Linked DNA regions of Homo sapiens. The protein of the gene in region 1 purifies or fractionates together with the protein of each later gene. This does not show direct contact. Each region holds a gene or a part of one and is shown in the gene's direction. Other genes may lie near its edges.

What was found.
Region 2: the proteins of DDX27 (region 1) and RBM19 purify together in Homo sapiens (affinity purification with mass spectrometry; 2 studies listed by BioGRID and IntAct, with this or other methods). This does not show direct contact.

What each region holds. Positions count from the first base shown.
Region 1 is NC_000020.11:49,236,183-49,240,091, forward strand, and holds part of DDX27 (probable ATP-dependent RNA helicase DDX27), read left to right. Parts: coding exon 1-49; intron 50-150; coding exon 151-328; intron 329-2,766; coding exon 2,767-2,873; intron 2,874-3,053; coding exon 3,054-3,156; intron 3,157-3,909. UniProt on the Homo sapiens protein: Probable ATP-dependent RNA helicase. Component of the nucleolar ribosomal RNA (rRNA) processing machinery that regulates 3' end formation of ribosomal 47S rRNA.
Region 2 is NC_000012.12:113,826,703-113,830,611, reverse strand, and holds part of RBM19 (probable RNA-binding protein 19), read left to right. Parts: intron 1-3,909. UniProt on the Homo sapiens protein: Plays a role in embryo pre-implantation development.

The sequences.
Region 1 (3,909 bases):
GGCCACTGATGTGGCAGCCCGTGGACTTGACATTGAGGGGGTCAAAACGGTGAGCAGACACTATCTTCCTTGGACTTTTGGTGGAAGTCTTTTTGCCTCTTCGCACCCCCCTTCCCTTGCCAGGCCTGACGTTCATTTTTGACCTTCTAGGTAATCAACTTCACAATGCCTAATACCATCAAACATTATGTCCACCGGGTGGGGCGAACAGCACGTGCTGGCAGGGCTGGGCGCTCAGTCTCTCTGGTGGGAGAAGATGAGCGGAAGATGCTGAAGGAGATTGTAAAAGCTGCCAAGGCCCCTGTGAAGGCCAGGATACTTCCCCAAGGTGAGCAGGCACCCCTGTGGCAGTGCAGAATGGCTCGGTGGGCGGGGCAAGGACAGAGTGTAATGGCTGAGAGCAGGTACTTTGCAGTTCAGAGCCAGATTTGAATTCCAGCCCTGCTGCTTCCTTGCCGAGTGACCATGTGCAGGTTTCACCTCACCTCTCTGAGCTTGCCTCCTGTGTGTAGAAGGGAATTATGACAGAATTGTAAACACAGTGCCCCATTTAGGTGGAAATTGAGAAGAGAAGGTTGCTTGGGGCAAAATTCTCACTAAACTCCTCTTTCCCTTACTGTTGGTGGTGGGGAAGAGAGAGATCAGTACTCATTCTTTTTGGGTCCTTTCATTGATTTTGTTCCTCTGATCTGTGGGGGTCTTATAAAGCACATCCTCTTTAAAGTCTTTTTTTGTTTTGTTTTGTTCTTGAATTCCTAGGCTCAAGCAATCCACCCACCTTCTGCCTCCCAAAGTGCCGGGATTAACAGTAATGAGCCACCATGCCCAGCCTTAAAAATTTTTAAAGTTATAAAAATAATACATATTTAGCCTGAGCATGGTAGCTCTTGCCTATAACCCAGCACTTTGGGAGGCCAAGGCAGGAGGATTGCTAGAGGCCAGGAGTTCAAGACCAACCTGAGCAATATAGTGAGCTGCCTGTCTCTAAAAAAAAAAAATTAGCTGGGCATGGTGGTGTGTGCCTGTAGTCCCAGCTATTCAGAAGGCTGAGGCAGGAGATCTCTTAAATCCAGGAGGTTGAGGCTGCAGTGAGCTATGATTGTGCCACTGCACTGCAGCCTGGGCAAAAGTGCAAGACCCTGTCTCTAAAAAATGAAATGAAAAGTACGTATTTATTGTTGGAAATTAGTAAATAAAAAAAAATGTAATTCTGTGTCAAAGAGCTCACCACTGGTAGCATTTAGGTGTATGTCTTTTCAAACCATTTTTCCTTTCTTAAATGTCCCTTTTATTTTTTTCATTTTCATTGTCTTCATTTAATCAGCGACTAGTTATTGAGTCCTGCTGTGGGCCTAGTGCTATTGATTCTGTTCTAGGTGCTGGGGATACAGCAGGGAACAAAGCAGAGCTGTGGTTCTGGGAGAAAGAGACAATAAATAAGCTAACAGTAGATGTGATTGAGAACAGCAGGAGGAGACTGCCTCATTAAGCTGTTAAGGAAAGGCCTCTGCACAGCTGGCATTGGAGCTGAGTCCTGGGTGATCGGAATGAGGCAGCCATGAGAGGTCTGAGGGCAAAGTGCTGAGCTGAGAGAACAAGGGTGGAGGCTGTGAGGTAGGAACGAGCTTAGTGTGTGAGAACAAGAGAAAGGTCAGGAGGCTCAGGCGTGGTGAGCAGGGACACACAGAAGATCAGAGCGGTAGGCAGGGGCCACTCTGAGTCTGGGGGATATGAAGCAGAGAAGGCACACATTACAGACACCATTTCCTATGTCAGTAAATGCACAGCTAAATTATTTTCATCAGTTACACAGTATTAGTAGTCACCCTTATTTTATTTTATTTAATTTATTTTTGAGATGGAGTCTTGCTCTGTTGCCAGGCTGGAGTGCAGTGGTGCGATCTCGGCCCATTGCAACCTCTGCGTCCCGGGTTCAAGTGATCCTCCTGCCTCAGCCTCCCAAGTAGCTGGGACTACAGGTGCATGCCACCACGCCCAGCTAATTTTTATATTTTTAGTACAGGTGGGGTTTCACCATGTTGTCCAGGATGGTCTCGATCTCTTGACCTCGTGATCCACCCGCCTTGGCCTCCCAAAGTGCTGGGATTACAGGCTTGAGCCACTGCCTTATTTTGTTTAAGATAAGGTCTTGCTTTGTTGCCCAGGCTGGGGTACAGGGGTGCGATCATAGCTTACTGTTGCCTCGAACTCCTGGGTTCAAGCAGTTCTTCTCCTCAGCCTCCTGAGTAGGTGGGACTACAGGTGTGTGCCACCATGATGGCTAATTTTTTTTTTTTTTTTAGATGGAGTCTCGCTCTTTTGCCCAGGCTGGAGTGTAGTGGTGTCATCTTGGCTTACTGCAGCCTCCGCCTCGTGGGTTCAAGCAGTTCTCCTGCCTCAGCCTTCTGAGTAGTAGCTGGGATTACAGGCGTGTGCCCCCACACCCAGCTGATTTTTGTATTTTTAATAGAGACGGGGTTTCACAGCATTGGCCAAGCTGGTCTCAAACTCCTGACCTCAGGTGATCCACCTGCCTTGGCCTCCCAAAGCGTGGGATTACAGGCATGAGCCACTGTGCCTGGCTTTTTTTTTTTTTTTTTTTTTTTTTGTAGAGACAGAGTCTGGCCACGTTGCCCAGGCTGGCCTCAAATTCCTGGGCTCAAGCAATCCTCCCACCTCAATCTCCCAGAGTGCCGGGTTACAGGTGTGAGCCACCATGCCTGGCCTACCCTTATTTGTAAATCCTTTTTATTTTCTCCCATTGAGATGTCATCCTCAAATTCCGGGACAAGATTGAGAAAATGGAGAAAGATGTGTATGCAGTTCTGCAGCTAGAGGCGGAGGAAAAAGAGATGCAGCAGTCAGAAGCCCAGGTGAGGCTGCGAGGCGGGATCTTGTTCACAAGGCTGCTCAGTAAGCAAGCTGCTGCATCCCTGCTGGTGCTGCCCTTCTGAAATGTTTCTCCCATCAGAGCCCCAGGCATTTGCAGCCCGTGGCTTCCTGTGTTAGTAGATACGGGTTTCACGGCAGGCATCCTTTTGTTATCTCTACAGATCAATACAGCAAAGCGGCTCCTGGAGAAGGGGAAGGAGGCAGTGGTCCAAGAGCCCGAGAGGAGCTGGTTCCAGACCAAAGAAGAGAGGAAGAAGGAGAAAAGTAAGTCAGGGAGGTTCCGCAGAAATCTAAATACAGAATTACCCCACAGGACTCAGCAGTTCCATTTCCTAGTTCTATACTGTAAAGCAGCGGTCCCCAACCTTTCGGCACCAAGGACCAGTATCGTGGAAGACAATGTTTCCACATTTGGGGTGTGGGGGTTGCATTAGATTCTCATAAGGAGTGCACACCCTAGATCCCTCGCATGCGCACTTCACAATAGGGTTAGTGCTCTTATGAGAATCTAATGCTGCTGCTGATCTGACAGGAGGCCAAGCACAGGTGGCAATGCTTGGTTGCCCAATGCTCACGTCCTGCTGTGCAGCCTGGTTCCTAATACGCCATGGACTGGAACCGGTATGCAGCCTGGGGTTGGGGACCACTGTTGTAAAGGATGTAAACAGGGACTCAAACAGATACTTAGATGCCAGTGCTCTTTGAATTACTGTTCATAATAGCAAAAAGGTGGAAACAAACTATGTTCATCAACAAGTGAATGGATAAACAAAATTTGGGGTGTGTGTTTATATACACACAATGGAATATTATTCAGCCATGAAGTTCTGATACATGCCATAAGGATGAACCTTGAAAATCTTAAGCTGAATGAAATAATCCAGACACAAAGGGACAAATACTGTCTGATTTCACTTACCTGAGATATCTAGCTAGGCAAATTCACAGAGACAGAAATAGATTATAGATTACTTAGGGCTAGGGGAAGGGGGGTTATAGGAAATTATTAGTGGTTGC
Region 2 (3,909 bases), on another chromosome or scaffold:
AGAAGCCCCCAGGCATAGCCCACCCCCCCCCCCCCCGCCCCGCAGCCCTAGCTCAGGGTAACTCCATGGGTATCAGGGCTGCAGCACCTTCACCAGCCCCTGTGTATGGGGTTGTGCGTGGCCAGTCATAGAATTCTGCACACACACAAGACACCCAGAGCACAGAGGGAAGTTACTCCACCCACCGACCCACTCTCCAGCCACTCAGGGAGCCCAGGTCCTCAGCACCAAGATTAATAACATCAGTCATCATAGCAGTCATCATATCCCGTGCTCACCCCAGGCCATTTGCATCAGAACCTCTGGAGGTAGGATCCAGGCATCAGTGGGTTCCTAGCTGATGCTACCAGACAGCTGGATTGAGAACCAATGGCCTTTGAAAAGGAAATTGCTGCTACATAGCCTGGGTCTGTTCATGCTTTTCCTGTTGAGACCCCCATCCTAGGGAGGCTGGGCTAGTGTCCCCCTCTGCGGGGCAGGCTTTGCTATGCTGTGCCAGTAAGGCTGGAGCCAACCCTATCTGAGCTCAAGGTCCTGCTTGGAAAGTGTGACCACTTGACTCTTCAGAGTCCTAGTGCGGCTGCTTCCTCATCTGAAAAGTGGGACAATGATGTTGCCTAGCTGGTGGAATTTCTGTAGGAAAGTCCAGAGCCAGCCTGCTGCTTAGAGCCAGCAGGCGCCTGAGGAGTGGTCCCTGCAGCTCGCCCCTTGGCCTTATCTTGGGCAGCTGGATTTCCCCTTTGCTGGGCACTGCCTGTCCTCTGGGGTGGCCTCACAGGACCCTTTGATTGTTAGCTTTCATGTTTGCCTGGCACCTCAACGGGCCGGGCCCTGGGCTAAGTGCTCTCATGCTTTATCTCATCAAATCCCCTGTGGTGGGTGCTACTACTGTGTCCTGTCTGCAGAAGAGTAACTTTGGTAACTCAGAGAAGGCTGGGACCACCAAGTGGCAGCACTCAGGTCCCACCTCGTCCTGTCCACCCTGAGCCCCAGTGTGGCCCCCATGGCTGGTGGTTTAGTTTATCCTGTGGAGTTTTGTTCACTGCCATATCCCCAGCATCATTCCTGGCACATAGAATATGCTGGGTCATGCTTGCTAAGAGTGACTGAAGGCAGGAATCCTTACGGTCCCCATGAGATAAGCAGAGCAGGCACCGTCCCCGTTTAACAGGTGGGAACACTGAGGTAAGGAGCTTAGCAGCTCCTGGGAGTCCCACAGTGGCAGAGGCCAGTCTGCGGCCCAGGCTCCTGCCCACCCGCTCTGCACAAGGACCCTCTCAGATCATACCTAGTTCTTAGAAGGACTCGCTGTGTTTTAAAAAGGCACAACTGGCTGGACGTAGTGGCTCATGCCTATAATCCCAGCACGTTAGGAGGCCAAGGCGGGTGGATCACTTGAGCTCATGTCCAACATGGTGAAATCTCATTTCTACTAAAAATACAAAAATTAGTTGGGCCTGGTGGTGTACGCCTGTAATCCCAGCTACTTGGGAGGCTGAGGCACAAGAATCACTCAAACCCGGAAAGCAGAGGTTGCAGTGAGCCGAGATCGCTCCACTGCACTCACCTGGGTGACAGTGTGATTCTGTCTATTTAAAAAAAAAAAAAGGCACAGCCCTAAAACAGCCTCCTGTATCAATAAAGGGACATTGGCTTGGTCTTAGGAGCCAGGCCAGTCTCCTGAAGAGTACCCTTTATTCTGTGCGTACCTGATGTGTGCCTGCTGTACACAGAGCCCTGAGATGCAGACCTATCTGGGTAGGAGAGCTCTGCCCGTGGGGGCTGCAAGATATGAAGCCAGGGAGGACAGGGAGAGACCCATGCAGAGGCACCAGCAGCTGAGGGTGGGGGTCTGGTTCAGCCAGCCTTCCAGAGCAGGCAGCCTCCCAAGCCAGGCCAGCCCCCGGGTGCCCAGCCCCCCTGCGGTACCCACATCATGGCACCCTCATACTCCCCAAGGGTGGGAGCTACAGGTGGCTGGTGTCCCCCAGCAGCCTAGGACTGCACACCACTGAGTCTGAAGATTGTGGAGCCTCATTCTGGCCTCCACACTCTGCCCCAACCTCCTTCCTCCCCTCGCCCACCTGTGCCCCCGCCCCCTGCCCTTCACCCCGGCCTCTTGGAATCAGTTCTGTCTCCGACTTAGCGGAGTTTGTGGAAGCCTTGCCTATCCTGTGTCTCGGGAAGTAGCAACTCAGGAGCCTCCAGGAACAGGAAGAAAAGCCCCCATAAGTGAGGCTGCGTGTCTCCAGGGGCAGCTAGTGCACAGCCTCATCAGTTACCTGTAGGCAGGGAGGGGACAGGTCTGCCACACTCACAGGTTAGCCATTCCAGGTTCAAGAGAAACGAGAGGTGCAGATTCTTATGTAGCATCTCCCTGTTTTTGAACATTAGTCACTGATTTCTGTATTCATGGCAAATCATGTCAGCAAATCCAGACACTCTTCTGTGGGCCCACAGTGGGAGGCCCTGCTCCATCCCATTGGTCACTTTTTTTTTTTTTTTTTTTTTTGAGACAGAGTCGAGAGCTGCTGTTGCTATCATCGTGTTATAGAGGAGGGGAGCAGCCCACCCTCGTGCTCTCAGTAACAGATTCCATCAACAGCAGTAAGAATGACCAACCTATATTGACAGCTTGCCGTGTGCTAGGCACTATTGTGAGGGCCTTACATACATATATTCATTCTTTTAATACCCTCACACACCCTAGGCGTGTAGATTTCATCACCATTCAGTAACTGCAGAAACTGAGAGGAGCCCAGAGAGGTGAAGCAACTTACCCAAGGTTGCCCAGCCAGGAGCAGCAGGGTTTGATCCTGGCAGCTCACCCACCCAGCACCCTGCATCTAGCACCCTCCACCCTGTACCTCAGGCCTCTCCACTCAGAATCCAGCCCTGGGCTTCCTGGCCCAGTGCTTTTCCCCTCCCCGGACTGTTCACGCCTGCCTCATCCCAGGGTTCCTTTCAGAACTCCCTTCTCCCCTTATCAGCCACGCTCTTCTCCCCCGGCTTGCCTTTCCTCAACGTCTGCTTCCAGAACAAAACCCCAAGAAGCGCTTTCTCTTGTCCTCCCGACGCACCCCCCCGCCCCCCCGCCCTTTCTCCCTGCCTGCGCCTTTCTCCCTGCCTGCCTGCGCCTCCCATGCAGGGCCGACAGCGCCAGCCAGGGAAGGGAGAGACACAGGCTGGCATTCTGTCAAGGAATTAATTGAAAAATAAAATCATTAGGTGGGAACTCCAGAAATGCAAAAATGGTGGTTGGAGGTTGGTGGGGAGGGGGGCAGGACTGGGGGGTTGTCGGGGGATGGCTGAGCTTTTTGTCAAGTTAATTTCTCGGGTATTGATGTTTGGTGACATTCACTTGTTGTTTATCTTCGGGTGCAGCTGTAATACTGAAAGAAAATGCACAGCTTGTTTCGTTTATTTATTTTACACCTTTCTCCGGTTCTGCATTATGTTTGTTTGGTGAAAACCCACTGAGGCTTTTGATGTCGGGGAAGTGGGATTTCAGCAGCTGTTCGCTGCAAACAGGGTGCTCCTCAAGGAAGCAGGGCCAGCGGGAGGTGCGGGGTGTCATTCGGTGGGAACTCGGGGCCTGACATGTCCTCCAGGGGGCAGTTGGGGGCCCAGCCTGAACCCTGGCAGATATGCCAGGCCCAGGAGCACGGAGGCTGGCTTATGATACATGAGTACATAGTTGGCAGGTAAAGGAATGAGATGTTTTGGTTCATCAAGGCCACAAAGCCAGGCTCCGCGTAAGAGCCCCCGCCCCATGAGTGCTCACTGCCCCAAAGACCAAGAGAGACACGAAGTCAACACCTTTCCTATCAATAATAGTAACACAGGTGTTGGTCTCAGCACCATCGACTGAGCCAGGGGCTGGGCATTGCCCTTTTTACTCATTTCAGC